Linked DNA regions of Homo sapiens: region 2 is linked to region 1. The links come from fine-mapping of genetic effects on gene expression. A gene starts in region 1. The other region holds a variant in brackets. All regions are shown on one strand. Distances are between the middles of the regions. Region 1 holds the start of RAD51 (RAD51 recombinase). Region 2 has its middle 26 kb from the start of CCDC32.

The links. PIP is the estimated chance that this variant, and not a neighbour inherited with it, causes the effect. A credible set is the group of variants that fine-mapping cannot tell apart.
Region 2: its variant is the best candidate, but not a certain one, in a credible set for the expression of RAD51 in blood mononuclear cells (TOPMed, PIP 0.77).

Annotation. Positions count from the first base shown.
Region 1 is chr15:40,686,629-40,702,733 of GRCh38, reverse strand. It overlaps RAD51 (RAD51 recombinase), which reads right to left and starts at 7,560. Exons shown (of 10, transcript NM_002875.5): 1 at 7,309-7,560; 2 at 3,889-3,977; 3 at 1,533-1,670. The coding sequence starts at 3,975. It overlaps RAD51-AS1 (RAD51 antisense RNA 1), which reads left to right and starts at 7,629. Exons shown (of 2, transcript NR_040058.1): 1 at 7,629-7,722; 2 at 7,939-9,000. RefSeq lists enhancers at 6,119-6,715, 6,716-7,313, 7,351-7,410, 7,881-8,030, 7,911-8,508 and 1 more.
Region 2 is chr15:40,530,960-40,547,064 of GRCh38, reverse strand. It overlaps a transcript of CCDC32 not described here and the pseudogene MRPL42P5. Among named protein-coding and RNA genes, the nearest start is that of CCDC32, 26 kb to the left of the region's middle. RefSeq lists an enhancer at 3,029-3,128 and a silencer at 3,279-3,378. The variant C/T (reference allele first, on the strand shown) is at 6,886.

The sequences.
Region 1 (16,105 bases):
CCAGCCTGGGCAACATGGTGAAACCCCGTCTCAACTGAAAATACAAAAATTAGCCACGTGTGGTGGTGGGAGCCTGTAATCCCAGCTACTTGGGAGGCTGAGGCACGACAATCACTTGAACCCGGAAGGCAGAGGTTGCAGTGAGCAGAGCCAAAATTGCACCATTGTGCTCCAGCCTGGGTGACACAGCGACACTCTGCCTCAAAAAAAAACAGAAAACAAACAATACAATCATAATCTTTACTGGCCAGAAACAAAGAACATAAAATATTGAAAAGTAAAGACACGTAAGTCTATACCATATTGCATCTCAAATCATGTATTCTAGGTTTGCATTGTTGTGTTCATAGAAACAGAGAAGTGACTTGATTTCTGAAACCAAGATCTCGCAAGGCAAAAAGAAAAGATCCTGTCAGCATTTGTTCATTCACAAAAACTGATACCCAAAAAGCGAAAACAGAAAGACTTTAGGGACCCCTACTGGCTTAGTCAATATGACAATCTTTTAACAAAAATACTGTTAGGGACTCAGAACCCTTATTTCCAATTAAGCAACCACTTCAGCAAATATTCATTTGAGTAATCCAATAAATTTATCTAACGCTAACAGTAATCGATACGTGAAAATACAATTTTATAAATAAATATTTGCGGTGGGGCGCGGTGGCTCACACCTGTAATCCCAGCACTTTAGGAGGCTGAGGTGGGCAGATCACAAGGTCAGGAGATCGAGACCATCCTGGCCAACGTGGTGAAACCCTGTCTCTAATAAAAATACAAAAATTAGCTGGGTGTGGTGGCACATACCTGTAGTCCCAACTACTCGGGAGGCTGAGGCAGGAGAATCACTTGAACCTGAGAGGCGGAGGGTGCAGTAGACCAAGATCACGCTATTGCACTCCAGCCTGGCAACAGAGCGAGACTCCGTCTCAAAAAAAAAAAAAAAAAAAAAAAAAATCTGCTTTATACTACATAAAACTTCAAGGGTAAAGGCAATAAAACTGTGTAACTATATAAACACTGAAGAAATAGGTTCATAAAACAAAATGTAACCATGGGGAAGTATGTATGTTAAAGAACTATATGAAGCTAGAAAAATAAATAGGCCAGGCACAGTAGCTCACACCTATAATCCAGCACTTTGGGAGGCTGAGGTAGGTGAATCGCCTGAGCTCAGGAGTTCGAGACTACCCCGGCATGGTGGCATGTGCCTGTAGTGTAGTCCCAGCTACTTGGGAGGCTGAGGTGAGAGGATCGCTTGAGCTTGGGAGGTGAAGGTTGCAGTGAGCTGAGATGGCACCACTGCACTCCACCCTGTGTGACAGAGCGAGAACCCGTCTCCAAAAAAAAAAAAAAAGAAAGAAAAAAAAAAGAAAAGAAAAGAAAAGAAGAAAAGAAACAGGTAACAGTCACCCCTGGAAAGGATAATGAGATGACCGAAGAATAAGAGATAGAAGGAAGAAGTCTTTCACTACATTCCCTTTTGTACTATTCCCACTAATGCCTCCCTAGGTTAAGTAAGCAGTACTTACCAGAATTTTATCAGCTTTGGCTTCACTAATTCCCTTAATATTTATTAGCTCCTTCTTTGGCGCATAGGCAACAGCCTCCACAGTATGGAATCCAGCTTCTTCCAATTTCTTCACATCGTTGGCATTTATGCCACACTGCTGCAAATGAAGAAAACCATGGATAAATTTAAGCTTTAGTTCTCTAATCTAACACAGATGTTATGTGTCCTACATACTTCACAGAGGTGCTTGAAGACTTGTAATACAACTGTCCCTTGAAATCCTTGGGGGGGCGGGGGGAGATGGGAAGTTGGTTCCAGGACCCCCAGCAGATAACAAAATCCAACAATGCTCAAGTCCCTTATATAAAATGGCGTATTACCTGCATATAACCTATGTACATCCTCCTGTATACTTTTTTTTGATATGTAGTTGATTGAATTTTTGATACGTAGTTTGTTGAATTTGCTGATACAGAATCCGGAGATACAGAGAGCCTACTGTTATTATATGCAAAAGCTGAAAAATGAGCCCTATATATGAGGTACTTAATAACAAATTAACAACCTTTTCATTATCAAAATCAATAATTTTAAACTAGCACTAAGCCATGTACATTAAAAAGAACTCCTATTAGCAATTGGAATTAAAAAGTAACTCCCAACCTTTTTTTGTGACCCTAAATGATCTCTGAGACCTTGGGCCCTACAAGACCACTTTAAGACAGTGTTGCTCAACACTTTCCACATCAAGCACACATAAAAAACTGTATTTTTACACTATGGTAGGGTAAATAGATAAGGCTGCTCAGAATATAAAGAGCACTATCTTGGCCTGTCAATACTTTTTGTTGAACAATGACCAGAAAGCTCTGCTCTAACAACTGACATTAACAGTGAGGAAAACTACTTTTTGTCAGGGACTTTTATACCTCTTCTCAAAACAAACCACCCAAAGACACCTCTTTCTTCCTATATTCAAGTCAGCTTTGGTTTCATTAGCCACCAAAACCATGACTTCTGGGAAAACATGAGTTAGTAGGTGAATGTGGGTGCATTCAGGGGTTGGGAGAATTTAGAAGAGGGGAGAGATTAGTTTGCCAACATAAGCCATGTCTGCTATTAATATTTAAGCAATATGCATGTTTGAGTATAAGGATGCTCATGGCACCAGAAGTTATGACTCTGAACTTTCAAATGTTTATCACAAATCCATTTAAGTAACTTCTAGAGTCTTTTTTTTTTATTAGCCTTTTGCACTCCTAACTTCTAGAGTCTTGAAGATTAGTCAGAGATGGGAAATATGAAAAAAAGAGACAGAAGAATCAAGTCTTTCTCTGCTTTCCTCCTACTTAGCCCAAATCAGCTGCACTCACAGGGCAGTCTCTATACAATGGGCAGAAATAGTGTAAGGCCTCAGCTCTGGTGCTTAATGTTCTTGTGCAGAATCCTGAATTGGAGCTTGTCTCTTATACCATAACACCACCACACCCTTCTCTCTGCCAATGACAGCTGACAGCACAAATCTAGGTTAATGGAGAGAAGGTGCTTCCCTGTCTTCCTTGCATAACTGGTCCAGGCCGCTATAATTCCCAGAACAGCACTTTCATACTTAGTGCAAATAGCACAGGATGCTTTGGCCAGGCATGGTGGCTCATGCCTGTAATCCTAGCAGTTTGGGACGCCAAGGCAGGTGGACTGCTTGAGGCCAGGAGTTCAAGATCAACATGGTCAACACAGTTAAGACCCATTTCTTAAAAAACAAACAAAAAAACAGCACAGGCTGGGCGCAGTGGCCCATGCCTGTAATCCCAGCACTTTGGGAGGCCAAAGAGGGTGGATCACCTGAGGTCAGGAGTTCGAGACTAGCCTGACCAACATGGAGAAACCCTGTCTCTACTAAAAATATAAAATTAGCTGGGTGTGGTGGCTCATGCCTGTAATTCCAGCTACTTGGGAGGCTGAGGCAGGAGAATCGCTTGAACCTGGGACGCAGAGGTTGCGGTGAGCCGAGATCACGCCATTGCACTCCAGCCTGGGCAACAAGAGCGAAACTCCATCAAAAACAAACAAACAAACAAACAAAAACAGCACAGAGATTCCACCATGGGATCCTAGGCCTTAGTTTCTGACAGTCCAACTCTCAGAAATAAAAATGATAAAGTAGGAAGAGAATTGTTGACAAAGGAAGAGGCCCTGCCAGACATATTTAGCAATGATCTGCAGCCTTTCCACAGGATTATTGACAACACTTCTGAAAAGTCTAATTTGGGTCTTGACCTTGGTAGTAAACCTATATTTTATGTAAAGGTTGTAATACCTTCCACTAGGTAGAAGAATCTAGTATATAATTCCAAAATTAGCAACTAACCACATACCTCTAACCGTGAAATGGGTTGTGGGCCAAAGCTTTCTTCTTCCACTGAAGTATCTGCATTTGCTTCAAGCTGCATCTGCATTGCCATTACTGAAAAATACAAATGCTTATCAGTATAAACACTAGAGAAATAAGGTGCATCTCTCTCCCCATCTTCTATCTAGCTAGTCGTATCAAAAAGACTTTAGGAAAAGCCAAGGCCATTCTCTTATTGTGCCTCTCTGTTCTCCTGCTTTATATTCCTTCAGTGTAGGGGCCAAGTTTTACTTATTTTTATATACCCCATTATACATTATAAATGTGTTTGCAGACAAATACTGCATGATCTCACTCATATGTAGAATCTAAAAAAGTTGATCTTGGCGGGGCGCGGTGGCTCATGCCTGTGATCCCAGCACTTTGGGAGGCCGAGGCGGGCAGATCACCAGGTCAGGAGATCAAGACCATCCCGGCCAACATGCGAAACCCCGTCCCTACTAAAAATACAAATATTAGCAGGGTGTGGTGGCACACGCCTGTAGTCCCAGCTACTCGGGAGGCTGAGGCAGGTAAATGGCTTCAACCCGGAAGACAGAGATCGCAGTGAGCCGAGATCGTGCCACTGTACTCCAGCCTCATGACAGAGTGAGACTGTGTCTCAAAAAAAAAAACAAAAAAAAAAAAGTTCATCTCATACAAGGAACAAATAGAACAGTGGTAACCAGAGACTGAGGAGAATGCAGCTGTTGCAGGGGGCGGCAGGAAGGAGAGAGGTTGGTCAACAGGCACAAAGTTTCAGTTAGATAGGAGGAATAAGTTCTAGGGTTCTATTTCACAGTAGGGTGACTACAGTAAACACTAATGTAATGTATACTTCAAAATAGCCAGAAGCGAGTATTTTGAATGTTCTCATCACAAAGAGAAATGACAAGTGTTTAAGTGAACTGATGGATATGCTGATTACCCTGATTTGATCATTCATTATACAATGTATATATGTATTGAAATATCATCTTGGGCCAGGTGGAGTGGCTCACGCCTGTAATCCCAGCACTTTGGGAGGCCAAGGCGGGTGGATCACCAGGTCAGGAGATCGAGACCATCCTGGCTAACATGGTGAAACCCTGTCTCTACTAAAAAATACAAAAAATTAGCTGGGCGTGGTGGCAGGCTGAGACAGGAGAATGGCGTGAACCCAGGAGGCGGAGCTTGCAGTGAGCCAAGATCGCGCCACTGCACTCCAGCCTGGGCGACAGAGTGAGACTCCGTCTCAAAAAAAAAAAAAAAAAAAAAGAAATATCATCTTGTATCTCATAAATATGTACAATCGTCTGTCAAAAACAAAGTAACACTTATTATTTTCACAACCTTGGGACAGAAAAAGATTTCTTGAAACTGGATGCATAACGCACTAGCCAAAAAGGAAAAGACTGAAAACTGAACTACATTTAAATTCAGCACTTCTACTGGGCACTGTGGCTCACGTCTGCAATCCCAGCACTTTGGGAGGCCAAGGCGGGCAGATCACCTAAGTTCAGGAGTTCAAGACCAGCCTGACCAACATGGAGAAATCCTGTCTCTATTAAAGAAAAATACAAAATTAGCTGGGCGTGGTGGCACATGCCTGTAATCCCAGCTACTCGGGAGGCTGAGGCAGGAGAATCGCTTGAACCCGGGAGGCGGAGGTTGCGGTGAGCCAAGATTGTGCCATTGCACTCCAGCCTGGGCAACAAGAGCCAAACTCTGTCTCAAAAGGAAAAATAAATAAATAAATAAATAATAAAAAAATAAATTCAGCACTTCTATTCATCAAAGGACACCACTAAGAGAGTGACAAGTCAAACCACAGTAGAGAAAACATTTAGCACAAACATAACTGAGGGCTGATAACCAGTATATAAAGAACTTCACATCAGTAAGAAAAAGATAATAGAAAAATAGGCAAGAGATTTGAACAAGCACATCACAGAAGATATCAAAATGGGCAAAAACATATGAACAGATGTCCAACATCATTATTAATCAGGAAAATTAAAATCACATTAAGACATTACTGTGTAACCAGCAGAATAGTTAAAATCAAAAAGGCTGAAAAATATCGTGTTGGCAAGCATGTGAAACAACGAAACACTCAACACTCCTGATGTATTTTTATATAAAATTCAAAAACAAGCAACATTAGTTCATCTCATTAGAAACCAGTATAGCAGTTACCACTGTAAAAAGGGGAAAATATTAAATACTACACAGGAAGGCTTCTGAGGACCATTCTATTAAGTGGTGATTACATAGGTGTATATTCATTTTGTCTTGCTCTATCGCCCAGGTTGGAGTGCAGTGGCCTGATCACAGCTCACTGCAGCTTATACCTCCCAGGCTAGATCCTCCCTTCTCAGCCTCCTGAATAGCTGGGCCTACAGGTGCACGCCACCATGCCTAGCTAATTTTTCCTATTTGTAGAGATGCGGGTCTCACTATCTTGACCAGGCTGTTCTCGAACTCTTGGGCTCAATCGTCCTCCCGCCTCCACTTCCCAAAGTGCTGGGACTACAGACGTGAGACACGACGCCCGGCCAGTATATTTTGTAATAATTCACGGAGTTGTATACAGTTGTGAATGTGAATTTTTCTACATGTATATTACATTGCGCTTTAGAAGTTAAAAACAAACAAACAAACAAAAAAACAGGGGCCAGGCGCTGTGGCTCACGGCTGTAATCCCAGCACTTTGGGAGGCAGAGGCGGGTGGATAACCTGAGGTCAGAAGTTCGAGACCAGCCTGACCAACATGGTGAAACCCCGTCTCTACTAAAAATACAAAAATCAGCCTGGCGGCGTGGTGGTGGGGGCCTGTAATCCCAGCTCCTCGGGAGGCTGAGGTAGGAGAATCGCTTGAATCCGGGAGGCGGAGGTTGCAGTGAGCCGAGATCGCGCCACTACACTCCAGCCTGGGCGGAAGAGCGAGACTCCATCTCAAAAAAAAAGTTTTAAGAAAACCAAACCTCACTTCAGATCATTCTCTAGGCATCATGTGAATGGTTTTCCGCATTAGATGATGAAAACACTGTTTTGGCAATCGGAGATTGGTACTTTCTAAGCACGGTGTAATGGAAAGACAGATCAGGAATCCGGAAGCCCTGGCTGTGATATTAAACAGCTGTGGCTACACCGCTCTGATCTCGGACTTCTCGCTCGAACCCATAAAATAGGTGTTGCCTATAAAGGCTCTAATGTTTCTCCCCTAGTTCTAAAGACTGAGGTCCACTTGTGTTTTCGCCCCAGCAGCTGAGGGTCGGTCGGGCGCGGACACGCCCTGCCACGTCCGGGTTTCACACTGCGCGCGGAGGCCCCAACTGCCGCTGAGCACTGGACCGGCCAGGACGCAGGTGGGCGAGGACGAGCCGCGGCTCTGGAGGGCCCAGCCTGCGCCTCACACACTCACCTCGGTCCGCAGCGCTCCTCTCTCCAGCAGGCCCCGCGCTCCGACTTCACCCCGCGGGCGTGGCACGCGCCCGACCCGCACGGCCCCCAACGCCCCTGGCTTACGCTCCACTTCTCTACTCGCTTGCCCCAGCCTTCTGCGCACAACCCAGATGAGTTGCAGTTCCCAGCTGCACGCCTCGGGAAGCGCCGCACTCTCCTTAGGGCTCGGTCTCTGGCCGCTGCGCGCGGTCCGCCAGCGGCTTTCAGAATTCCCGCCAAACCCTCTCGCCCAGGGTCACGCCCGCGTCGACGTAACGTATCCCCGCCTCCCGGATCCGCCTTCTCCCCGCTTCCGCCCTGCGCGCTAACCCAAGACGGGAGCTCGAGAGCTTGATCCTGCGCGAGTTTACAGACTGCCCTCTTCCCTTTTTGCGTAAGGACTAATTCAAACTTTATGCCGGGGGCGGTGGCTCACGCGTGTAGTCCCAGCTGCTCGGGAGGCCGAGGCGAGAGTATCGTCTGAGCCTAGGAGTTCGAGGCTAACCACGGCAACGCCCCTACTCCTACCCCAGTCCCTCGCGGGTGGGGCGAGGGATTTCAGGGGGCGGTGGGGGAAGACTTAACCGAGTTGCCGTCTTCTGTTTACCAGATCGAAGACCACGACTCCCAAGAGGTAATGCGTCGGCCCGGGACTACATCTCCCGGCATGCATCGCCGGCGGGTCCGCGAGTTCTCACCATCGCAGCTGGACTATTAGCGGGGGCCCTAGCGCTCTTGTGGTTTGTTTCGGCAGTATCTGAATGTCAGCTTTTGGCACTTCTGGTCGCTCTGAGCCTCCTACTCGCATTCCTGGAGCAAGGTGCTTTCCAGGCCTCATGGAGGTGGAGGAGCTGAGGAAGCTCGAGAAGATGGATAGAAGTGGGAAATGGAGCTAGCGTACGGGAGAGGGAAATGGCTGGAATATTCGTCAATCTGTGGTGCTTTACTGGAGATTTGCAGGAGTTCAGAGGAAGGGGGCATTGAATTTCATAACCTAAACCGTATCGTGGTTTACCAGAAAGTTTTGACCCGTGATTCCGGTTTTAAAGGCTGAGTAGGGCCGGGCGCGGTGGTTCACGCCAGTAATCCCAGCAGTTTAGGAGGCCAAGGCAGGCGGATCACCTGAGGTCAGGGGTTGGAGATAAACCTGGCCAACGTGGTGAAACCTCGTCTTTAGTAAAAAATACAAAAATTAGCCAGGTTTTGTGGCACATGCCTGTAATCCTAGCTACTCGAAAGGCTGAGGCATGAGAATCGCTTGAACTCAGGAGGAGGTTGCAGCCAACCGAGATCTCGCCGCTGTACTCCAGCCTGGGCGACAGAGCGAGACTGTGTCAAAACAACACCACAAGCTAGCTGAGTAGGGATTCTTGGGCGAAGTGGAAGACATTATAAGCAAATAGGGTAGTATGGGCATGGAAACGAACTACATGATTAAAGATTAGTATTATCTGGCGAGGGAGGAAAAGTGCCAGAGCAAGTGCCGAAACTGGAAGGTTACATTTAGTTCAGGATATGAAGATCATATAAGGCCTGCACGGTGGCTCACACCTGTAATCCCAGCACTTTGGGAAGCCAAGGTGGGGGAGGATCGCTTGAGCTCAGGAGTTGGAGACCAGCCTGGGCAACATAGTGGGACCCCATATCTCAAAAAAAAAAAAAAAAAAAATAAGCTGGGCGTGGTGGCTTGTGCCTGTGGTCTCAGCTATCCCGGAGGCTGAGGTGGGAGGACTGCTTGAGCTCAGGACGTCAAGGCTGCAGTGAGCTATGATGGGCCACTGCACTCCAGCCTGGGCTACAGAGTGAGACCTTGTCTCAAAAGACAAGCGACAACAACAAAACATGTAAGGAGAGGCCAGGCGCGGTGGCTCAAGCCTGTAATCCCAGAACTTTGGGAGGCCAAGGTGGGCGGATCACGAGGTCAGGAGTTCAAGACCAGCCTGGCCAAGATGGCAAAACCCCATCTCTACTAAAACTACAAAAATTAGCCGGGCGTGGTGGTGCATGCCTGTAATCCCAGCTCTTTGGGAGGCTGAGGCAGAGAAGTGCTTGAACCCGGGAGGTGGAGGTTGCAGTGAGCGAGATCACGCCACTGCACTCCAGCCTGGGCAACAGAGCAAGACTCCGTCTCAAAAAAAAAAAAAAAGGTAAGGAGCTTTGGTCTCTAGGTACTGAAGAAATCATTGAAGTTTTTAAGAAGACAAGTCATTTGGTTAGATCTATTTTCCCTCCACTTACCAATTTATTTTTATTTTTATTTATTTATTTATTTATTTATTTTAGATGGAGTCTTGCTCTGTTGCCCAGGCTGGAGTGCAGGGACGTGGTATCAGCTCACTGCAACCCCACCTCCCAGATTCAAGCGAGTCTTCCTGCCTCAGCCTCCCAAGTAACTGGGATTACAGGCGCCTGCCACCACGCCCAGCTAATTTTTTGTATTTTTAGTAGAGACAGGGTTTCACCATGTTGGCCAGGCTGGTCTCGAACTCCTGACCTCAGGTGATCCACCTACCGTGGCCTCCCAAAGTGCTGGGATTACAGGTGTGAACCACCGCACCCGGCCTTATTTTTTTATTTTTGAGACAGCATCTCGCTCTGTTCAAGTTGGCCTTGAACTCCTGGCCTCAAGTGATCCTCCCACCTTGGCCTCCCAAAGTGTTGGAATTACAGGTGTGAACCATTGCAATGGCCTTATTACTACTTTATATTTGTGGAGTGCTTTAAAGTTGACAAAGTTTTTAGTTAATCCTCACACTATTACCTTGTGGCGTTGAAGAACAGATTTCAGGAGCGTGAAAGTGAAGACACCAAAAAGGAAGTTCTTGCAATATTTCAACAAAGAGATGAAGATTTGGATTAGATTCCAGTTCTACCTTTTTGGCACCAGGGAGCTGTTCTGTGAAAGACAATTTTCCACAGGGCTCGGGGGGTGGGCATGAGGCAGAGGATGGTTTCGGAATGAAACTGTTGCACCTCAAGATCATCAATTAGATTTCCATAAGGAGTGTGCAATCTAGATTCCTCACAGGTGCAGTTCAAAATAGGTTTTGAGTTCCTGTGAGAATCTAATGCTCTCCTTGATCTGACAGGAGGCAGAGCTCAGGCAGTAATGCTTGCTTGCTAGCTGCTCACCTGCTGTGCAGCCCAGTTCCTAATAGGCGACAGGTCTGTGTTGGGGCGTTGGGGTCCTCTGAATTAGAGGAATGACAGAGAGAACAGACTCAGGCAGCTTTCTGGATGTAGAAACAACCTAACTTAGTGATTATAGATACTACCTGTGATAATAGTGAACTTTCTTCCATATCAAAGTTACACACCTTTGCCTCCGGTTCTTCCCACACCCTTAGAGCATCTGCAAACCTACAGCCCTCCTCCTAGCTGACTGTAGTCACATGACTTTTACCTTTCTGGCCACCAGTTGTACCAGCAGTGTTCATCTGGCCCCAAATTGGCCAATCATTTTCCTGCTCCTGGAAAATTAGACTTGGCTTTATATTCAAGTCTGACCTCAGGAATTTATGGGGCAAAGTACACAGATAGATGTGTGTGAATGTCCAATCAGAGAAAGCACATCTGCAGAAAGATTAAGAAATTGATGTCGGGTGTGGTGGCTCAAGCCTGTAATCCCAGCACTTTCGGAGGCTGAGGCAGGCGCATCACCTGAGGTCAGGAGTTCGAGACCAGCCTGACCAACATGGTGAAACCCCATCTCTACTAAAAATACAAACATTAGCCTCCAGCTACGCAGGAGGCCAAGGCAGGAGAATCGCATGAAACTGGGAGGCAGAGGTTGCAGTGAGCTGAGATCGTGCCACTGCACTCCAGCCTGGATGACAGAGCAAGACTCTGTCTCAAAAAAAAAAAAAAAAAGAAAAAGAAAAAGAAATTGAGATACTAAGGAGAGAGTCAAAGATAAATAAACCATTTGAATTCTGACTCCTTTCCAGATCGCCTTTCCAGTTTCTCAGAAGCCTAGCAGTACTTACTCCTCCTGCTCTTGGGTTCTTTTTTACTTTTTTTTTTTTTTTAAAAAAAAAACCTTGAACTCTTAAGGATTAATGCTCTTGAGTTATGAGATATCCCTACATTCCAATAACTCTACCTTCTATTTTTATTGATTAAACTAGTTTGAGTAGTTTCTGTTCCTTTCTTCCAAAACAACCCACTGAGAACTTGGAAATAAGGCAAACTAGATTTCCCTCTAATAGTTAAATTGGCATTCTCTGAGAATATTTATAAATGTGTTAATTGAAAAATTTTGGAGTGTGGTGGCTCACACTTGTAATCCTAGTGCATTGAGAGGCTGAGGTGAGAGGACCATTTGAGGCCAGGAGTTAGAGACTAGTCTGGGCAATGTAGTGAGACCCCCCAACTCTACAAAAAAAAATGTTGTTTTGTTTTTTTTGTGTTTTTGTTTTGAGATAGAGTCTCGGTCTGTCGCCAGGCTGGAGTGCAGTGGTGAGATCTGGGCTCACTGCAACCTCGGCCTCCCAGGTTCAAGCGATACTCCTGCCTCAGCCTCCCGAGTAGCTGGGACTACAGGCACATGCCACCACGCCCGGCTCATTTTTTGTATTTTTAGTAGAGATGGAGTTTCACCATGTTGGCCAGGATGGTCTCGAACTCCAGACCTCATGATCCGCCTCGGCCTCCCAAAGTGCTGGGATTACAGACGTGAGCCACCGCGCCTGGCCAAAAAAAACCTTTTTTTAAAAATTAGCCAGGTGCGGTGATGCACACTTGTAGTCCTAGCTGTCTGGGAAGCTGAGGAGGGGAGATTGCTTGAGCCCAGGAGTTCAAGGTTACAGTGAGCTATGATTGCACCTTGCACCACTGCACTCCAGTCTGGGCGAAAGAGTGAAACTTTGTCTCAAAAAAAAAAAAAAAAAGTATAAATACATATATATAAATGTATATATATAGAGATACATACACACACACATACATATATATGTATTCTTTATATATAAGGTAATGTGTATCAAGTGATCTAATCTGCTCCTAATTCACCTCCTCTAGTATGCTTACAAAATGAGAGTCCTGGAATAGCAGACATGCATTGTAAATAAATGAACATCTTTCTACAAGTATATTTCCCCAAGGTTCAACTGAATATAGTTTGCTATAATTTCTTAAAATTCAATCAATTTCACATCCATTAAACTTACAAGTACCGTAATCCAGTTTTCCTAGGAAAACTAAGCCCAGCCGAACCTTGGGAAAAATACCTCTGTGTTAAACATATATACATGATCGATTTTAAATGTTTTCACCACAAAAAATGGTAAGTACGTGAGGTGATGGATTTGTTAACTCAGAAGCAGGCACACCAAATCACAATGGGTCTGATTCGATCCTCCCTGATGGCAATGGAGACCCATCTAACTAATCCCACTTCTAATTACCTTTCTTTTTCTCCTTACAGACCTAAAAAATCTCACCATTTCTATTAGCCTGAAAATAACATCCCTCTGTTCTTCTCTTCCTCCTTCAGCACTGAATCTCGCTTACACTAGGTTTTACTTAATGATTCTCCTCCTTATACTTTCTGTCTCACCAGTTTCCTCTCACACTTATTTACCTGCTACACAAAATTATTCTTATTGGGCTTATGTGCCCTTTCCTCCACTTATTCGACCTCTCACCTGGATTGATGCTCCTGCGGAAATCTACATTAACGATAGTTTGTGGATGCCTGGAGCTACAGATGACCGTTGCCCTGCTCAACCAGGAGAAGAAGGCACTACATTTAATGTTATCATGGGTTATAAATAACACCCTCTGTGCCTCAGAAATGCACCTGGTTATATCCATCTAGAAACTCAAGTCTGGGCTGCTTATCTTCCCGAGAGATCAGCTACAGAGGAACCGGGACATTTGGTCTCTGGCCTCTCCCTTTCTCCTTTAAAACAAATGAAAGGGGGAGTAATGGGACATACCCCATACTTTCAATAAGTAGCCTCCAGGCATTCCCTTCCACCAGAGGAGCAATTGTTTTTTAAATAGCCCTTTGGCGCCCAGTCTATTACTAAACCATATGAGTCATTTTTTAATATTACTGCATGTGAGTTAACATAGTCTTCCCAAATTAAAGTTTTAGATGGGCCCTCAAAATTTTTAGGGCATGGTTTTCCTGCAGGTTTATATGGAAAGTATGGGGTCCCTGACTTCTCGCAACAGTGGCCTACACTGCCTTTCAGTTTACCTAGGCCTCCAAAGCACTTTAGCCTGTGGGGCTTGCCAGAACTCGGGTTCCAGCTCCTGGAATGGACAGTTCCCCTCTGGCTAGGGTTGATCTAATGTTCCCTCTGGGTTACTGGCTGAGTTCTGCCCTGTGTGGCTTTCTGCTGTGCCAGGGCTGCACTGAGTTCAAATGCAGAGTCTCACAATCATTGTATTCTTCCTCCCCCAGGAGCACCCATTCTCTCTTTACACCAATTGGCCACTGCCAGGGGATGAAGAGGGATGATGTTGACAATTCAAGACTATTTCTTACCCTCTTCAGTGCCTGTTTCCTTAATATGATAATAAACCAGGTACTGCGATCACTCACCTGATTATTGGTTCTTATGAAGGTGCTTTTTTAATGTAGTTGTTCAGTTTGATATTTCTGTCGGAGGGATGACTGCTGGAGGATTCTATTAAGCCATCTTGCTCTGCCTTCTTGCAACACATAAAATTCAACAGTTTTGTGCAACTGTAAGTTCAAGTGTTTGTAATTTTATTTATTTCATTTTTTTCTTTGAGATGAAGTCTCCCTCTTGTTACCCAGGCTGGAGTGCAGTGGCGCGATCTTGGCTCACTGCAACCTCTACCTCCTGGGTTCAAGCAATCCTCCTGCCTTATCCTCCCAAGTAGCTGGGATTACAGATGCCTGCCACCATGTCTTGCTAACTTTTGTACATTTAGTAGACATGAGGTTTTGCCATGTTGTCCGGGCTGGTCTTGAACTCCTGACTTCAAGTGATCCACCTGTCTTAGCCTCCCAAAGTACTGGGATTACAGGTGAGAGTCACTGCTCCCTGCTGCAAATTTCTTATTAAATCTGTTTGACAGATTTTAGAATTTCTATAAGTAATGTTTAAAATTACAACCATTTGGGCTGGGTGTGGTGGCTCATGCCTGTAATCCCAGCACTTATTTTATTTCTTATCAGGAGAACGAGAATCATCATACTACTTTGCATCGGAGGTTAAGCTCATTCTTTTCCTTAAAATGGGAAGATAAAGGCATTACCCCCTCTCCGAGGCCTCATATGATACTCCCCATTCTGACCCAGAACACCCAGAACTTTGGAAATTGGCTATTGCCATGTCTGGACTGCAAGTATGGGAAGCAGAAACTATTCTGTCTGTTGTCCCCACTACCATCTCCCTCTCTCAGTATCAACGTAGATCCAGACATTCTGCTTTACCTACCTCCAACCTGTTTCCATACAGAGTTCTGTTAAGCCTCCTTGCATGCTGTTAGTGAGATATATCAAAATTTGGATGAACAATCAAACTGTCCAATGCATTAATTGTCATTTATACACTTGTATTAACTCCCATTTTGATTCCAGGAAAAGTGTAATGTTGGTTCGAGCTCAAGAAGGAATCTGGATTCCGGTAACTTTGCCCAGACCTTGGGAATCCTCCCCTTCAATACATTTAATTAATGAAGTGTTACAGTGAATTCTAAAAAGATCTAAGAGATTTATTTTCACTTTAATTGCTGTTATCATGGGCCTAATTACAGTCACTGCAGTGGCCACCACTGCCGGAATGGCATTACACCAGTCCATTCAAGCGGCTCATTTTGTTAATGGTTGGCAAGCCAATTCCATCCAAATGTGGAATTCTCAACAAGGCATCGATCGAAAATTGGCAAATCAAATTAGTGATTTAAGACAGTCTGTTATTTGGCTTGGAGATCAGGTAGTGAGTCTCGAGCATCACATGCAAATGCAGTACGATTGGAACACTTGAGATTTCTGCATCACCCCGTATTCCTATAACGAGACTGATCATTCATGGGAAATGGTCAAAAGACATCTTCTGGGTAGGGAAGATAATTTATCACTGGACATAACTAAATTAAAGAGACAAATTTTTGAAGCCTCTCAAGCTCACTTATCCATTGTGCCTGGAGCTGAGGCGTTAGATCAGGTGGCAGAAAATCTTTCTGGATTAAACCCCAGGACTTGGATTAAGTCTATTGGGGGCTCCACTGTAGTAAATTTTGGAATTATGTTTCTCTGTTTAATCGGCTTGTTTTTAGTTTGCCAGACTAGTCAAAGAATCCTGCGTCAAAATCAAGAGAACGAACAAGCCTTCATTGCCATGGCACATTTATTATAAAAAGAAAGGGAGAGATGTTGCGGGAAGTCAGGGACCCCGGAGGGACCAGCTGAAGCCATGGCAGAAGAACATAAATTGTGAAGATTTCATGGACATTTATTAGTTCCCCAATCAATACCCTTGTGATTTCCTATGCCTGTCTTTACTTTAATCTCTTAATCCCGTCATCTTCGTAAACTGAGGAGGATGTATGTCGCCTCAGGACCCTGTGATGATTGTGTTAACTGCACAAATTGTAGAGCATTTGTGTTTGAACAATATGAAATCTGGGCACCTTGAAAAAAGAACAGGATAACAGTGATGTTCACGGAACAAGAGAGATAACCTTAAACTCTGACTGCCGGTGAGCTGGACGGAACAGAGCCATATTTCTCTTCTTTCAAAAGCAAATGGGAGAAATATCACTGAATTCTTTTTCTCAGCAAGGAACATCCCTGA
Region 2 (16,105 bases), 160 kb after region 1:
TTTACCTCAGTCTCTGCTGTTTTATACACCATGGGCATTCAGTTAAAAAACTGCAAAACATAGGTCAGGCGCTATGGCTCACACTTGTAATCCTAGCACTTTGGGAGGCCGAGACAGGTGTATCACCTGAGGTCAGGAGTTTCAGACCAGCCTGGTCAACATGGCGAAACCCCATCTCTACTAAAAATACAAAAATTAGCCAGGTGTTGGTGGTGTGTGCCTGTAGTCCCAGCTACTCCACAGGCTGAGGCAGGAGAATCACTTGAACCTGGGAGGGTGAGGTTGCAGTGAGCTGAGATGGCCCCACTACACTCCAGCCTGGGCAACAGAGCAAGACTGTCTCAAAAAAAAAAAAATTGCAAAACACACAAAAAGACAAGAAGAAAACAACCCAATCCATTATCAGAAGATGAATCAACAGAACCAGACTCACAAATGACACAGATGTTGGAACTATCACAGAGGGACTTAAAATAATTATAATTACTATGGGGTCTGGTGGGGAAGGGTGGGCAACTTGCATGAACAGATAGGGAATTTTGGCAGAGACATGGAAACTAAGAGAAAGTGAAATGGGGCTGGACGTGGTGGCTCATGCCTGTAATACCAGCACTTTGGGAGGCCAAGGCAGGAGGAGCACATGAGCACAGGAGTTTGAGACCAGCCTGGGCAACATGAGACCTCATCTCACCAAAAAATACAGAAATTAGCCAGGCATGGTGGCTCGTGCCTGTGGTCCCAGCTACTTGGGAGGCTGAGGCAAGAGAATCACTTGAACCCAGAAGGCGGAGGTTGCAGTGAGCCAAGATCATGCCACTGCCCTCCAGCCTGGGTGACAGGGTGAGACCCTATCTCAGAAAAAAAAAAAAAAGGAAAGAAAAAGAAAAAATAAAGTCAAATGGAAATGCTAGAAATAAACATGATATTAGAGATGAATTGCTTCCACAGGCTTTTCAGTAGGTAGGCATAGGTGAAGAACCAGTGAACTTGAACTGGTCAATAAAAATTCTCTGAACTAAAACACAAAGAGAAACTGGGATGGGGGAAAAGCAAAACAAAGCAAAACCTATAAGAGCTGTGGGACAATAACAGTCTAATATACATGTGATTCCAGCCTCAGAAGGTGAAGAGAGAGAGAATGAGGCAGAATAAATCTTTGAAGAGATGATAGTTACATGAATGAGGTGTGGCGGCAAGGCTAGAGAGAAGTGGATATGGGAGCATTTGCAAGGAGAACCACTGAGGCTTGGTCACTGAGTGGAGGGAAGTGTGGCACCTGAGTGTCTGTCTTGGGAGCTGCAGGCTCTCAGCAGGTAGTAGTGGGTGGTTAGCAGGTGGTGGTGCCAGGATGGAGAGCCAAGCCTAGCTCTCCAGTGCCTGTGCTCTCTGCTGGTACCCCACACCACCTCCTACAGGCCAAAGTGGAACAGTAGTGGGCCTTTGCTCCTCGATTCCCTAGCCTCCAGCCCCAGCCTTTCCTAAGCCCTCAATGTACTATTCCTATTAGTCAATGTGTGGCAGAGAGATGTTCATCTCCCCCCATTCTCTCCACCTCCTCTGTCCCAAGTGTTGTGTCACACATTGCTCTAAAGGTTTTCTTTTCCCAAACAAACTGACTCTCTCCTCCCTTCATTTTGACGTAATCCACTTTTAAAAATTACTTCTTTAGCAGATAAGTAGAAAGGGAGGAGGCAAAGGTGAGAGGGATTGTGTGTGTGTGTGTGTGTATGTGTGCAGAAGAAAGCAGATAGGTTACTGAGAGTTTATGAGCATTTTAAAGAACAGATATTTCCAGGACCAGTTTTGGCTCTTTAATCTTACATCCTTTGGGGATGAGACCATCAAATATTGGCTTAGCAGAATGCCAAGGTGCAGTGTGGTCTTCAGCATGGTGCCTGATCAAGGCAGACAGGATGCGGAGTGTACATTGGGTAAGAGTATGGTAGAGGAGACCCACAGTTGTTAGAACAATCATCCCAAAGGTAAACTCTTGGATTGATAAACTGACATGTTGTTGGTTTCTTTTTCCTCTGTTCAGCTCAACATCTTTATCAATGATTTGGTTGAGTGAATAGAAGGTAACCTTATCAAAAGTGAGAGGAGTAGGTAATTGAATAAAAGAATAACAATTCTAAAATTTTTCTATAGACTAGAGTGATGGGACAAAGTATGAAACATGATACAGATAAATGTGAAATCTTTCATTTGGGATCAGAAATTAACTACACAACTAGAGGACAGAGAAGAACAGAGTATTTATTAGTTTGTTCTAGTGACAGAAGCCAAGAAGCCAGACTCTGGAAAGTTTTCCAAGGCTGTTGAAAAAAAAAAATCCAAGCCGGACTCAATTCTAGTCTAAGACATATAGAGCTGGCTTCAGTTAGCTGGACCTCAGGACTCCAGCAGTATCTTTAGCCTCTCTTCCTCCCACTGTTGACTCTCTCTGTGTGTTGGTATAGCACAGGGAGCTCTGGGCTGACATGATTCCAGTTTAGGAAGTCCAGAGGAAAGATAACACTTTCCAACCCCATATAATAGATGCCAGGGGGCTCCGCACAGTGGTTTAGGCTTAACAATCCCAGCACTTTGGGAGGCCAAGGTGGGAGGATCACTTGAGCCCAGGAGTTTGAGACCAGCCTGGGCAACAGAAAGAGACCCCGTCTCTACAAAAAAAAAATTTAAAAATTAGCCTGGCGTGGTACTGCATGCCTGTAGTCCAGCTACTCGGGATGCTGAGGTGGGAGGATTGCTTGAGCCCAGGAGGTTGAGGCTGCAGTGAGCTATGATTGCCCTACCGCACCCTATCCTGGGCGACAGAGCAAGATCCTGTCTCAAATAAATAAATACATTCCAGGGGAGGGACTCAGATTGGCTTGGCCTGGGTCACATGCTCATCATTGGAGCACTGACTATGACAAGGGCAAGATCTATGGTTAGGGGTACAGGATACTGTGGTAAACAGTCCCACCAGAACCATATGAGAATGGGAAGTGAAAGAGGATTGCTGTTGGCTGAAGAAAGGGGAAAGTGGTATGGAAAACCCCAAACAGGTGTTCAGTGTCTTAACAGTTCAATGGAGTCAGCAGTGTTATGTGCTGCTAAAAAAAAGTTATAATTCTAGGAATCAATAGTGGAAATGTACCTGTGTACCTGGGACATAGTAGTGTAAAAATATATTCTGCAGTGGTCATGCCTCTCTGAAAGCATCGTCTGGGCACCACATTGCAAGAGGATGTTCTGCAGTGAGCAGGTCTATGCAAACCTACCCCTAAAGGCCAAGAGAGCTGAGGGGCCAAAGAAACAGGCTGACAAGCCCGGGTGCAGTGGCTCATACCTGTAATCCCAGCACTTTGGGAGGCTGAGGTGGGTGGATCACGAGGTTAGGAGTTTGAGACCAGCCTGGCCAATATGGGGAAACTCCATTTCTACTAAAAATACAAAAATTAGCTGGGCACGGTGGCGTGCGCCTGTACTCCCAGCTACTTAGGAGGCTGAGGCAGAAGAATCTCTTGAACCTGGGAGGCAGAGGTTGCAGTGAGCCAAGATCATGCCACTGCATTCCAGCCTGGGCGACAGAGTGGGACTCTGTCTCAAAAAAACAACAACAACAACAACAAAAACAAAACAGAGAGAGAGGCTGACGAATCTAGTTTCTCAGAGATAAATGCTTAATAGAAACTTATGCACAGAAGCCATACCTTGGTTGGTCACGAGATGGTGGTTTCCATGCCCGCCCTCCAGAAAGTATCCTTTGTATAACAAGTTTTTAGGGGAAAACATGTGCAGCTGGTCACACCTCAGACTTTATTGCAAGTTTCATGACCACTGGGGAGGTTAGATAAGCATCTTTATGAGGGGTTATTTATGCTACAGGCATTCTTTCTTTTCTTTTTTCTCTTTCTTTTCCATTTTGTTTTTTTTTTTAGACAGAGTCTGGCTCTGTCACCCAGGCTAGAGTGTAGTGGCATTATCACAGCTTATTGCAGCCTCAACCTCCCGGGCTCAAGCTGTCCTCCCTCCTCAGCCTCCTGAGTTTGCTGTGACTATACCCCTGGCTAATTTTTTTTTTTTTTTAAGAAAAGTCTCAGTATGTTGCCCAGGCTGGTCTCATACTCCTGGGCTCAAACAATCCTCCTACCTTGGCCTTCCAAAGTGTTGGGATTATAGGCATGAGCCACCCCACCTGGCCAGGCATCTTTTTTTTTTTTTTCTTTTGAGACAAAGTCTCGCTCTGTCCCCCAGGCTGGAGTGCAGTGGCAACCTCTGCTCCCGGGTTCACACCATTCTCCTGCCTCAACCTCCTGAGTAGCTGGGACTACAGGTGCCTGCCACCATGCCCGGCTAATTTTTTGTATTTTTTAGTAGAGACGGGGTTTCACCGTATTAGCCAGGATGGTCTCAATCTCCTGACCTCGTGATCCTCCCGCCTCAGCCTCCCAAAGTGCTGGGATTACAGGCATGAGCCACTGCGCCCGGCCCAGGCATTGTTTCTTGACCTTGCCACAGGAATGCCTTGGTATGCAGGAGTCAAACATCAGTCATTATGGCAGTTTTGCTTCAAGGTGGTGCCATTCTTGCAACAGGGTCTTTTCCTACAGAGGAACATCGACAAACTGCAATGCTCCCTAGAGGAGGGGTCCAGGGTGAGCAGGCTCAGATCGAGTTATTTGAAGACAGGACAAGACAATAAGATTGTTTTCCATAGAAAAGAGATTTAAGAGAGACCCGGTTGGCTTTAAAATATTTGAAGGAGTATTGGGTAGAAAGCTGAGACACACTGAAGTACAAAGGACAAACTAGGACCAATGGCAGGGAGTTTCAGGAAGACCAATTACCATTCAGTGTTAAGAACTTTCTAATAGCTGTTCAACAATAGGGTGGCCTTGTAGAAGATAGTAATTCCCTGTCACTGGAGGTGTGTCAGCAGATGTCAGAAAGGTTGTAAAGGGGATTCCTGCATTGTGTAGAAAGTTGGATCAGGTCACCCCTAAGGTCCTTTCCAATTATGAAAATCTGTGGTTGGCTACTGGAGACCTATGGGGGCTTGCTGCTGTTAAGTCAGCCCTGGTCTCCCCAGCATTTGGGAGGGAGAGCTGGTGAGTTCTTCTTTCTCCTCCCTAGATAATAATGACAAACACCTGATCACCTACCAGTCAGTGGTCAGAGGCAGAGCCCTCCAACAGTTCTTATCTTAGCTCAACCCTGAGGGACAGACTCTTGGGTTGGAAGATCACAAAAAGGTCGCTCTTGTGCTGTTTTATGTTCTCTGAACGTGTACCTTGAGACAAGGACCTGTATGTAGGTGGCTGATTTTAGGGGGTGAGCAGGAGTGAGGGAGGGAGGAGAATGAGACAGCTCCCTGTGTTGAGTAGGTCCACTGTGGGTAGTTAGGGCTGTCGCCCTGGGATCACTCTGAGGAGACATAAAGATTATGGCTTAGGCTAAGCGCGGTGGCCTGTAATCCCAACACTGTGGGAGGCTGAGGCGGGTGGATCACCTGAGGTCAGGAGTTCGAGACCAGCCTGGCCAACATGGCAAAACCATGTCTCTACTAAAAATACAAAAATTAGCCGGGTTGGTGGTGTGTGCCCATAGTCCCAGCTACTTGGGAGGATGAGACAGGAGAATTGCTTGAACCCGGGAGGCGGAGGTTGCAGTGAGCCGAGATGGAGCCACTGCACTCCAGCCTGGGTGACAGAGCGAGACTCCGTCTCAAAAAAAAAAAAAAAAATATTACAGCTCAGAATTTTGCCACTGACTGACGGGGCACATCTGGGCTGCAGTTCCACCAGTGCCCATCCTTCATTGGTTGAGGTTTGCTCTTTGGAGGTATTAAGCCCCTGCCACTTTCAGGCAGCCCTGCAGGGGCTAAGAAAAGCCTCACGCAGAGGAGAGAGGAGGGAAACTGAGCATGTACCAGAAGCATCCGCTGCAGCTGCGGCTGGTCACAGAAATGGGCTGGAGGGATGTGAGGCAGCGCGTGAGCATCTGGCACAGTCTCTTTCCCGCCCAGGCCAGGATCCGCCTTCCAGGGCTGTGCGGGACCTTTGGTTTTGACATTTTGGTCTCTGTGGCCCAGTGTGGGAAGTGGTTCTCCCCGGGGGTGAGTTCAGCCCAGCCTAGTCTGAATGTCCACACACTGCTCTCTTGGGTTCAAGTCTTCCTTCTTGGCCCAGCTTCTCACTGGGCTCTCTGGACTGAGGGCACCAGGGCAATGGACGCTCCAGGCTGGCACCTGTTCAACACTCATATGTGAGCTTGGAACATGGTGACATTAGGGGCACTGACTCTACTGTCCTTTCACACTGTGGTCAAGGTTAGGATAGATGAGAGACTGGCCCGGCCCCAGAGTTTCCTGTATTGACAGCCTAATCATTTTCTAAGAAGAAAATGCTGGGCTGGGTGCAGTGGCTCACACCTGTAATCCCAGCACTTTGGGAGGCCAAGGCAGGCAGATCACCTGAGGCCAGGAGTTGGAGACCAGCCTGGCCAGCATGGTGAAACCCTGTTTCTACTAAAAATACAAAAAATTACCCAGGCATGGTGGCAGGCGCCTGTAATCCCAGCTACTCGGGAGGCTGAAGAAGGAGAATAGCTTGAACCCAGGAGGCGGAGGTTGCAGTGAGCCGATATCACGCCATTGCTCTCCAGCCTGCACAACAGAGCGAGACGCCACCTCAAAAAAAAAAAAAAAGAAAAAGAAAAAGAAAAAAATGCTAAGAAGAACGACAAAGAATTCAAAGACCCTGAGAAGCCTCCCTCAAAGCCTTGGAGACACTTCAAAGATGGGAAATCATGGCACTGATGTTAGAGGCAGTGTTCCCTGCCAGGCACTAAAGGCCAATCCAGTTGGCCCAGCCCTCCTGTTACCACTCCTCTGGATTG[C/T]CCTAGTCAGAGCTCTGAGCCTGTCTCTCTCTTCCCTGATCCCTTCTCCCACCCTCTGGGCCCCACACTCTTGTCTGGTACTCACTGTTCAGTCTGTCTTTTCCCTCCTCTTGCCCATTCATTACCTCCAGGGGCATCATCATCTCTGAGGTTCACACTTATTCCCTAGATTTTGCCGCAATTTGAAAATCAACCCTTCACACTGTTCCAATGCCCATTTCACCACCTGGGCGAAGTGAGGCTGAGTAGGTATTTATGATGAGTTTGGGGTGACATGGAATCAAGGGCAAGGAGCGGGGTGTGTGTGTGTGTGTGTGTGTGTGTGTGTGTGTGTGTGTGGCAACAGTTTGATCACTCTTATTAGGGGAGGGCCCCTCTTAAGGTGGCAAATGTTGTCCAGCCAGAGGAACAGCCTGGCCAACAAATCAACTCAGACAGACCCTGCCTGACATCTCAGAGAGCAGGAGGCCAAGAGAGACCTATTGGGCAAGGAAATTTCCTGGGATGGGAGCAGGGGCAGCGGAGAGCTGACTGCCTTGGTCTCTGCTTTTCCTCTCTTCCTCTGCCTGGCCTCTTGCTGTGGTGCCACGGGCCCCCGTGTCCCCTGTGCCTCCGTTTGTCTCTTGTCTCTGTCTCAGGCTCCACTTTGCTTTATTTTTCCTGCAGTCCTGCACGGCTGAGGCTGTGTCGACACCTCACTTCCTCGCACCTTCGCACTCTCGGTGCTCCTATGTATGCCTGTCTCTCTTTGACTCTGTTAGTGTGTGCCTCTGACTGTATCTGTCTATCTTCCTCGTCTCTGTCGGTCTGTCTTATTCCCATAGGCCCTGTAACTCCAGAACCCCTGGCAGCAGCAGCTTTTCTGAGGATGGAGCGTGGGACAGCCACCAGTGTGCTGAGCAGAGGTGGCGAAGGACATTTCCAGCCCAGCAGTCGTCATGGTAACAGCCAGGGCGGGCCAGGCAGGGATGTGCAGAACCATGTGGGATTGACCTTTCTGTGGTGTCAGGTTTGAGCGGGAGCTGGGGAGAAACAGCAACAACTACTTCCCTCTGGCCCAGCCCTCAGGGCTTCTGGGCTGGGCTGAATGAAGAAAGGGAGAAGCTGAGAAGTGGGACAGCTGGCGAGAGAGCCAAGAGAGAGACAGGGCTTTAGTCAGAGCCAGCTAGAGAACCCATGGGAAGAGGGACAGGCTGGTCACCAGCAGGCTCCTGCGGTGAGCCCACCTGTGGCAAGCACTAGACCTCAGGCCCCCAGTTGGCAGCGCTCATGGGTGGGTACTAAAGGTCAGTTCCCTATACTCAGAGCTCCCCCAGACTCCTTCAGATCAAATGTCACCTTTTCCATATTGCAAAAGCCTTTATTGCTCTAAGGAAAACATGCTAAATTAAAAAGAACCAAATTATTCTTTTAAAAATAGAAATATTTTAAATGGAAAAGTTCAAAGAAAATAAAAGGCTTTCCAATCCTCCCTCTGCTTCTCCCAGCTCTAAAATTCCTCCACAGTTGCTTCCCATGCCTGCCAGGTTGGAGGAAAGGGACAGGCCTGGGCCCAGCGGCCTCTTCTCTGACAAGGGCACAGAAAGGGAAGCCGGATTGGTCGTTGCCTGAATTTGAGGGGGGCTTGGACTCACAGGCTTCCCGCTAATTCGAACCAGTGAAGGAGACTCATTTCCCTCTATGCCCCCTCTTTCTCCTATTGGGGCGGACATACAGGCAGCAGAAAGAGGTGCCCACAGGTGCCCTGTGACCCCTTGAGGGAGAGGCGAGGGGTGCAGGGCAGCCTCAGGTGAGCTCCATGGAGAACATAGCTTACCAGTGGATCCCATTTCCAGACTTTCAAATCATGGCCATGCAAGAGATCTCGAGCTTTCTGGGACACACTGCTATGGAAAACAAGACCATAGCCTCAGAATAAAAAATGTGGTCTTCTTATTTACTGAAAATCTACCTTCAGGAAAGACATGAAGGGGGCACTCACCAGCCAATAGGTGGGTAACTTAACACAGCAGCACCACAGGCTTTCTTTTATACAGGAGTACAGTCCCCAAATCCCCTTGGAGAACTGCCTCTGGGCCACTTGTACAGGGGAAGGGGACACTTGGCAGGAGAGGGGACCGCAGACCTTGTAGTCATAAGTTAGCATGCTGCTAAAAGACTATTTGAAATGAGTGCTGATTACATATATTTAAAAGTGGTCAGCATTACTGAAGCTCCAGCTTTTTTTTCTGAGGCGGAGTCTTACTCTATCACCCAGGCTGGAATGCAGTGGCACCATCTCGGCTCACTGCAACCTCCACCTCCCAGGTTCAAGCAATTCTCCTGCCTCAGCCTCCCCAGTAGCTGAGATTACAGGTGCCCACTGCCATGCCTGGCTAATTTTTCTATTTTTAGTAGAGACGGGGTTTCACCATGTTGGCCAGGTTGGTCTTGAACTCCTGACCTCAAGTGATCCGCCCACCTCAGCCTCCCAAAGTGCTGGGATTACAGGCATGAGCCAACGCGTCTGGCCAAGAGCCAGCATTTTTGAGACTCGAACCTTTCTCTGACTGACATGTATTGTGGAGCTCAAAATAAACATTCTGTATTTTGGGAGTTGGTCATCACTCTCTAGTTATGCTCCTGTAGAGCTATTACTGAACCTCTGGCCTCTTCCCTGGGTTCTGGAAACCTTCATGTACCCGTGGCCCCCAGAGCAAGGGGTAGGAGACAGGAAGGCTGCTAGTGCCCCGATGGTCCCACACGAGGCTGGGACCTTGGGACACAGGCACTGCATCATTCACTGTTCCCTGCATGGGCTTCAGGAGTGGATGAGAGCCCAGGGCCAAGCCCCTTCCTCTTTCGTTCTGCCCAAGCCCCTTCCCTCCAGCTGCCTTCCCTCCTTGAGTCCCTTGATTCCTCTGTGATCCCCCCTCCAGCTCAGCACCTGGGGCTGGCACCACTCCCCAGGGATACTGATAAAGTCACAGAGCATCTGCCCAGCGCCTGAGGTGGTGTAAGTTGGGGAAGGTGGGTCATCCTGTTAGTTGCTCCTGCCAGGCCTGGAGCCCCTGGTGGTCCTTTAGAATTCTAGATTCTCTTGGTTCCTTTCTCCAGAATCCTTCCCTTCTCGCTCCACTCATGCTCTGGGCCAGGCCCACCACGTCTCCTGGCAGCTGACTATCTCATGCCACCTGCCTTTGTTCTCTATTCCCTTTGCCAAAACCATATTTTCTGGTGAATCCCTCTTCTACTTCAAGGTTCAGTTCAAGTGCCACCATATAAGTGAAGCTGTCCTCAGTCGACCCTAGGTGACTCTGTGGCCCCATGGAACTTTTTCTCATCACCATCGTAGCAGTCATGACTCTGTTTTGACCTCCACTTCTCCACTGGAGAGTGTGTTCCGTGGAATGAACTGGCTTGTAGTGTGACCTGTGAACCTCCAGAGCTTGGCTCTGTGTTGCTCATTGAGTACTTGTTCTTGCAGTGGGCCCTTGCCAAGAGAGGCCCCTGTTCTGGGATGTGAGCCAGAGAAGGTCCGAGACTCATAATTTCATGTGTCATACTCGTCCTCCACCCAGCTCCCCCTGGCCAGATCACAGCCCCCTCCTGCTGCAGGGCCTGTAGTGCCAGGCTGGTTGCAAGACAGGGGTCCTCACCTCTGAGAAAATCATGGCTTGGCCCATTGGCACCCCACCTGGGATGCAGAATGGAGCAGCAACAGCTGGCTGGTGTCTGAACGCTATTTCCCCAGCCCTGGGCAGCCATCTCCTGTAGCTGTTCCCTCATCCCATGGCTTTACCAACCCCTCCTTGCTGCACTGGAGAGCCTGAGAGCAAGTAGGTTCAGAGTGGGAAGACAGGGCTAAAGGCATCTTCCCGGTCTTCTCTCCTTCCCCTTCCTCCCAGCAGTTGCAGCTGTGCTGCGTGATGATGTGGAACAGAGCACAGTCTTAATTACTGCTCAGCCCTGCTCATTAGTGCTTCTGGAAGCCCAAGAAGCCAGAGTTAGGAAGCCTCAATCACAGTGGAGACCCAGGCTGCAGGCCTCCTGGGTGATCGCTAGTCCTGTGTCTCCTGGTGACTTGGGACCCCTTTGGGGGACTCCAGCAAAAGACACTCCCTCCAACCCTGAGACTGGGGAAGGGCTGAAGCTGGAGGGAGTCACTGCTGGATTAAGGGAGTCGCTGCTGGATTAACCTTCCTCATGGGCAGCTCTGATCAAATACCTATGTTTCTCTTGCTGACAGCATAGAGTCTGGAGTCCTTGGCTTAGCAGTCAAGCTCCTCCACAATTTGGTCCCACAGGACTTTCCCAACCTGATTTCCTCCTTCAATCCTGGCAGACAAGGAGGGAAGGCAAAGGCTAGGCCCCCTCATGGGCTCTCACTAGTGTGTGCAGAGCATTTCAGGGACAGCATATGGTGGAACGTGTGAAACTCCACTGCAATCAGAGAAAGATGAACGAATGATTAAATAAACCACATGTGCTCAAATCCCGCACACTGATGACTTCCCTGCTTTTGGAGAGACTTAGCAAGGAGCCTGGTGTGTTGTTCAGCATGCACTATTTTTTTTCTTTTTTTTTTTTGGTTGTGAAAAGGAATAAAGAACCATGAAGTGCCTGAAGACTGAACGAAAGGAAGCTGAGTGGAGGAGGAGAGAAGGGGCGGGCCCTGAAAACTATAAATCTATAGGCCCAATTTCAATATGTGGAAAAACTCCTTCAAAATATAAATTTGTAAACACCCTAGATCAAATGAGAGAATGCTCATGAAAGCACTTTTTGAACTGCAAAGGGTTAGAAATATAAAGCATTATTCTGTAATATTTCTGTTCAGTGCAGACTTTAAAACAGATGCTATGGAGAGGCTGGAGATCTATGATAATGGCTCATCACCTACAAGGTGCTCATACAGTTTGGGCTGTTTCATTTAATTAGTCATTGCCTCTCATGTAGACTACTGCAGAAGTCTCCTAAGTGGCCTCCCCACCTCTGCATTCTCCCCCATTCCATTCATCTTATATGCCACCGTCACGTTAATCTTCCTGATGCACAGCTCTGATCAAATACCTGTAATGATTCTCCTGCTGACTGCACAGAGCCTGGAGTCGCTGGCTTAGCAGTCAAGACCCTCCACAGTCTGGTCCCCCAGGACTTTCCCAAACTGATTTCCTTCCATCACGGCAGGCATGGGCTCGGGAAGATCAAGTCACTAAACCCAAGACCACACAGATACCAAGTGGCAGATCATACAGCCAAGCCTTCAGACCCTGACATCTGACTCCAAGACCATTCTGAGCCCATCACTTCCTCACTTTGATGGTGCAATGGACTGTGTGTTTGTGTCCCTCTAAAATATACATGTTGAAACACTAATCCTGATGTGATGGTATATGGAGATGGAACTTTGGGGAGGTAATTAGGTCATGAGAGTGGACCCTTTATCAATGGGATTAGTGCCCTTACAAAAAGGGGCCAGAGACCTAGCTAGTTCTCTTCTGCCATGTGAGGATACAATGAGAAGTAGACAGTTGGTGATATGGTTTGGCTGTGTCCCAATCCAAGTCTCATCTTGAATTGTAGTTCCCACAATCCCCACGTGTGGTGGGAAGGACCCAGCGGGAGGTAACTGAATCAAGGGGGCAGTTTCCCTCATGCTATTCTTGTGATAGTAAGTTCTCACGAGATCTGATGGTTTTAGAAGGGGCTTCCCCCTTCAGTCGGCTCTCATTCTCCTTCCTGCTGCCCTGTGAAGAAGAACATATTTGCTTCCCCTTCTGCCATGAATGTAAGTTTCTTGAGGCGTCCCCAGCCATGCCAAACTGTGAGCCAATTAAACCTCTTTCCTGTACAAATTACCCAGTCTCCAGTATGTTCTTATAGCAGTGTGAGAATGGATTAATACAGCTGGAGACCCAGAAGAGGGCTTTCTCCCAGAACTGGACCCTGCTGGCCCCCAATTCTCAGACTCCAACCTCGGAACTGTGAGAAATAAACCTGACTAAGGTTAGACCTGACTAAGACAAATGGATACTGCTGCAGTGATCTTTCCACATAGAGCTTTTTCTCTTCTTTGCAAAAATTTCCTTAGGACAAATTCCCAGGAGTGGGATTACCAGGTCAAAAGTCATTAATATTTTAAATGGCTGTGTGAATTGACATAATGCTTCACAAAAGAACTGGGCTGATTTATATTTTAGCCAATGATGTAGATATATACAAGTTTCACCAGCCCCTCTTGGGATCTTAGCCCTTCTAATGCCTGCTTTCTAACGGCATAGCGAGAACATATTGTAAAAGTAATTTGATTTCTTCATGTGTTATTCAGGGATTGCTCTCATCTCCTCCAAGTCTTTGCTCAAATGTTCTCGGTGTGGTCTACCCCAATTACTCTATTTCAAATGAAAACACTCCCTCCTCCTAAACCCATTACTCTCCTTACTCTGCTATTTTTACACATTATTTGGCATCTTATAATACATACTTTTCTTATTTATTATGTGTATCCTTTTTTAAAAAACGTGCTGAAAACTCTTTATAACAATGCAGGACAATGGCCAGGCATGGTGGCTCATGCCTGTAATCCCAGCACTTTGGGAGCTGAGGTGGGTGGATTACAAGGTCAGCAGTTCGAGACCAGCTTGGCCAATATGGTGAAACTCCGTCTCTACTAAAATACAAAAATTAGCCGGGCGTGGTGGTGCGCACTTGTAGTCCCAGCTACTCCTTCTGAGGCAGGAGAATCGCTTGAACCCAGGAGGCAGAGGTTGCAGTGAGCTGAGATCACGCCACTGCACTCCAGCCTGGGCAACAGAGGGAAACTCCATCTCAAAATAAATAAATAAAATAATAATAATGCAGGACAATTATGTATAGCAAACACTTTCAAAATTTAAACTCCTTCAACATTTAATTCTTCAGCATTATGTATACTTTTAATTGCACATCTGCCCCCGACCCTGACACCAACTAGAATGTAAGTTCCATTTTGTCTATTTAATTTGCTGATGTGTTCCCAAGACTAGAACAGAGCCTGGGGCATAGCAGGATCATGAGGGTCAAACAAGATAATGCCTGTATGTAGCCTGTGGTGGGCAGCACCTGGTACAGAGCTCATGATGAACCATTATCCTCTTCCTCTTACATGTCCACCAACAGGAGAATAGAAATTATGATATATAATATTGTAAATTGGCCAGGTGCAATGGCTCATGCCTGTAATCCCAACACTTTGAGAAGCTGAGGCAGGAGGATTGCTTGAGCACAGGAGTTTGAGACCAGCCTGGGCAACATGGTGAAACCCCCTACCTCTACAAAAAATAAAAAAAATTAGCCAGGTCTGGTGGCACGCGCCAGCCTGAAGTGGGAGGATCAACTGAACCCGGGAAGTCGAGGCTGCAGTGATCTGTGATCATGCCACTGCATTCCAGCCTGGGTGACAGAGTGAGATTCTCTCTCAAAAAAAAAAAAAAAAAAAAAAAAAGAAAGAAAACAAATTCAAGTAAAACAATTAAATTATAAATCATTAAAATTATAATTACAAAGAATATGCAGCAGTATGGAACAGTTTATAACTAATGTTAAGTGAAAAAAAGCAGACTACAAATTTGTCCATGATTACAACTGGGTAAAAATAATTTAAGATCTATGCAAAAATAAGGAGACAAGATGATGGGCTCATGGTGAACAGCTGTGAAGCAGGGATGAAAATTAATGTGCCCAGAAGCAGATTCTCTTTGAAGCATCTTTTTTCATACTACCTGATAAGTGTCTTGCTACATGGCAGTAGCAGCAGTAAGACGGGTGATATCAAAGAGAACTATCTGGAAACATTTATCTTCAATCCAAAATGGAGCCTTATGTTTGTCATAAATCTACGTACTCTTCTTTTCCAGGTGACTACAATTGCAAAGTAGAATTTGCTTTGACACCTGATGCCAGGACAATAGTATGTTACCATCCTTCTATAGACATTCCATATGAACGCACAAAACCTATCCCTTGACCAGATCCTGTGTATAATAATGAAGAAACACATGGTCAAGTGCTGAAAACTAGAGAAGAAAAAAGTGAACACCTTGAGCGAGAACCCATAATAGAACAACTTAGCAAAATGTTCTTTATGCTAAGTACGGTTGGCATCTTCGTGGACATTAGCACAGATGTCAGAAGAAACCGGAACCTCCAGAAGACAGATGATATTGAGGTTCTTGGGGAATTAAAGAGAAATATTACCCTCTGCCTCATTTGCCATTGGAGACAGTGCAATCTGGTGTATGCACTAATAATAATAATAACATGTCTTTTCATATTTAAAAAAAAAACACAAAATCTTTAGGAAGCCGAGGTGGGTGGATCGCTTGAGTCAGGAGTTTGAGAGCAGCCTGAGCAACATAGACCCCATCTCTAAAAAAAATTAGCCAAGTGTGGTGATGTGTGTCTGTGGTGCCAGCTACTTGGAAGGCTGAGGTAGGAGGATTGCTTGAGCTCAGGAGGTTGAGGCTGCAGAGAGTGGTGATCATGCCTCTGCATTCCAGCCTTGGTGACAGAGCAAGACCCTGTCTCAAACAACAACAACAACAAAAATCAAAATCTATGCAAAATTTAAACCCAATCTTGCGCTAGTCTTGTGGGAATGAAGATTAATTTACCTAAAAATGCTCCTCTGGTTTTTGTAATTCTTTTTGTTACTTTTTAAAAATATAAATTTGGCCAGGCACGGTGGCTCACACCTGTAATATCAGCTACTCGGGAAGCTGAGGCAGGAGAATCGCTTGAACCTGGGAGGCGGAGGTTGCAGTGAGCCGAGGTCCCGCCACTGCACTCCAGCCTGGGTGACAGAGTGAGACTCTGTCTCAAAAAAAAAATAAAAAAAAAGAAATATAAATTTAAGGGGTATAGGTGAAGTTTTGTTACATAGATATATTACACAGTGTTGAAGTCTGGGCTTTTAGTGTAACCATCATCTAAATAATGCACATTGTACCCCCTGATTTCCTATCCTTCACCCACCTCCCACCCTCCTACCCTCCCAAGTCTCCAGTGTCTACTATTCCACACTCTGTGTTCATGTGTACACATTTAGCTCCCACTTATAAATGAGAACATGCAGTAAAAAATATGGAACACTTCACAAATTTGCATGTCATCTGTATCAGTCCACTTTGCATTGCTCTAAAGGAATATCTGGCCAGGTGCGGTGGCCCATGCCTGTAAACCCAGCACTTTTGAAGGCTGA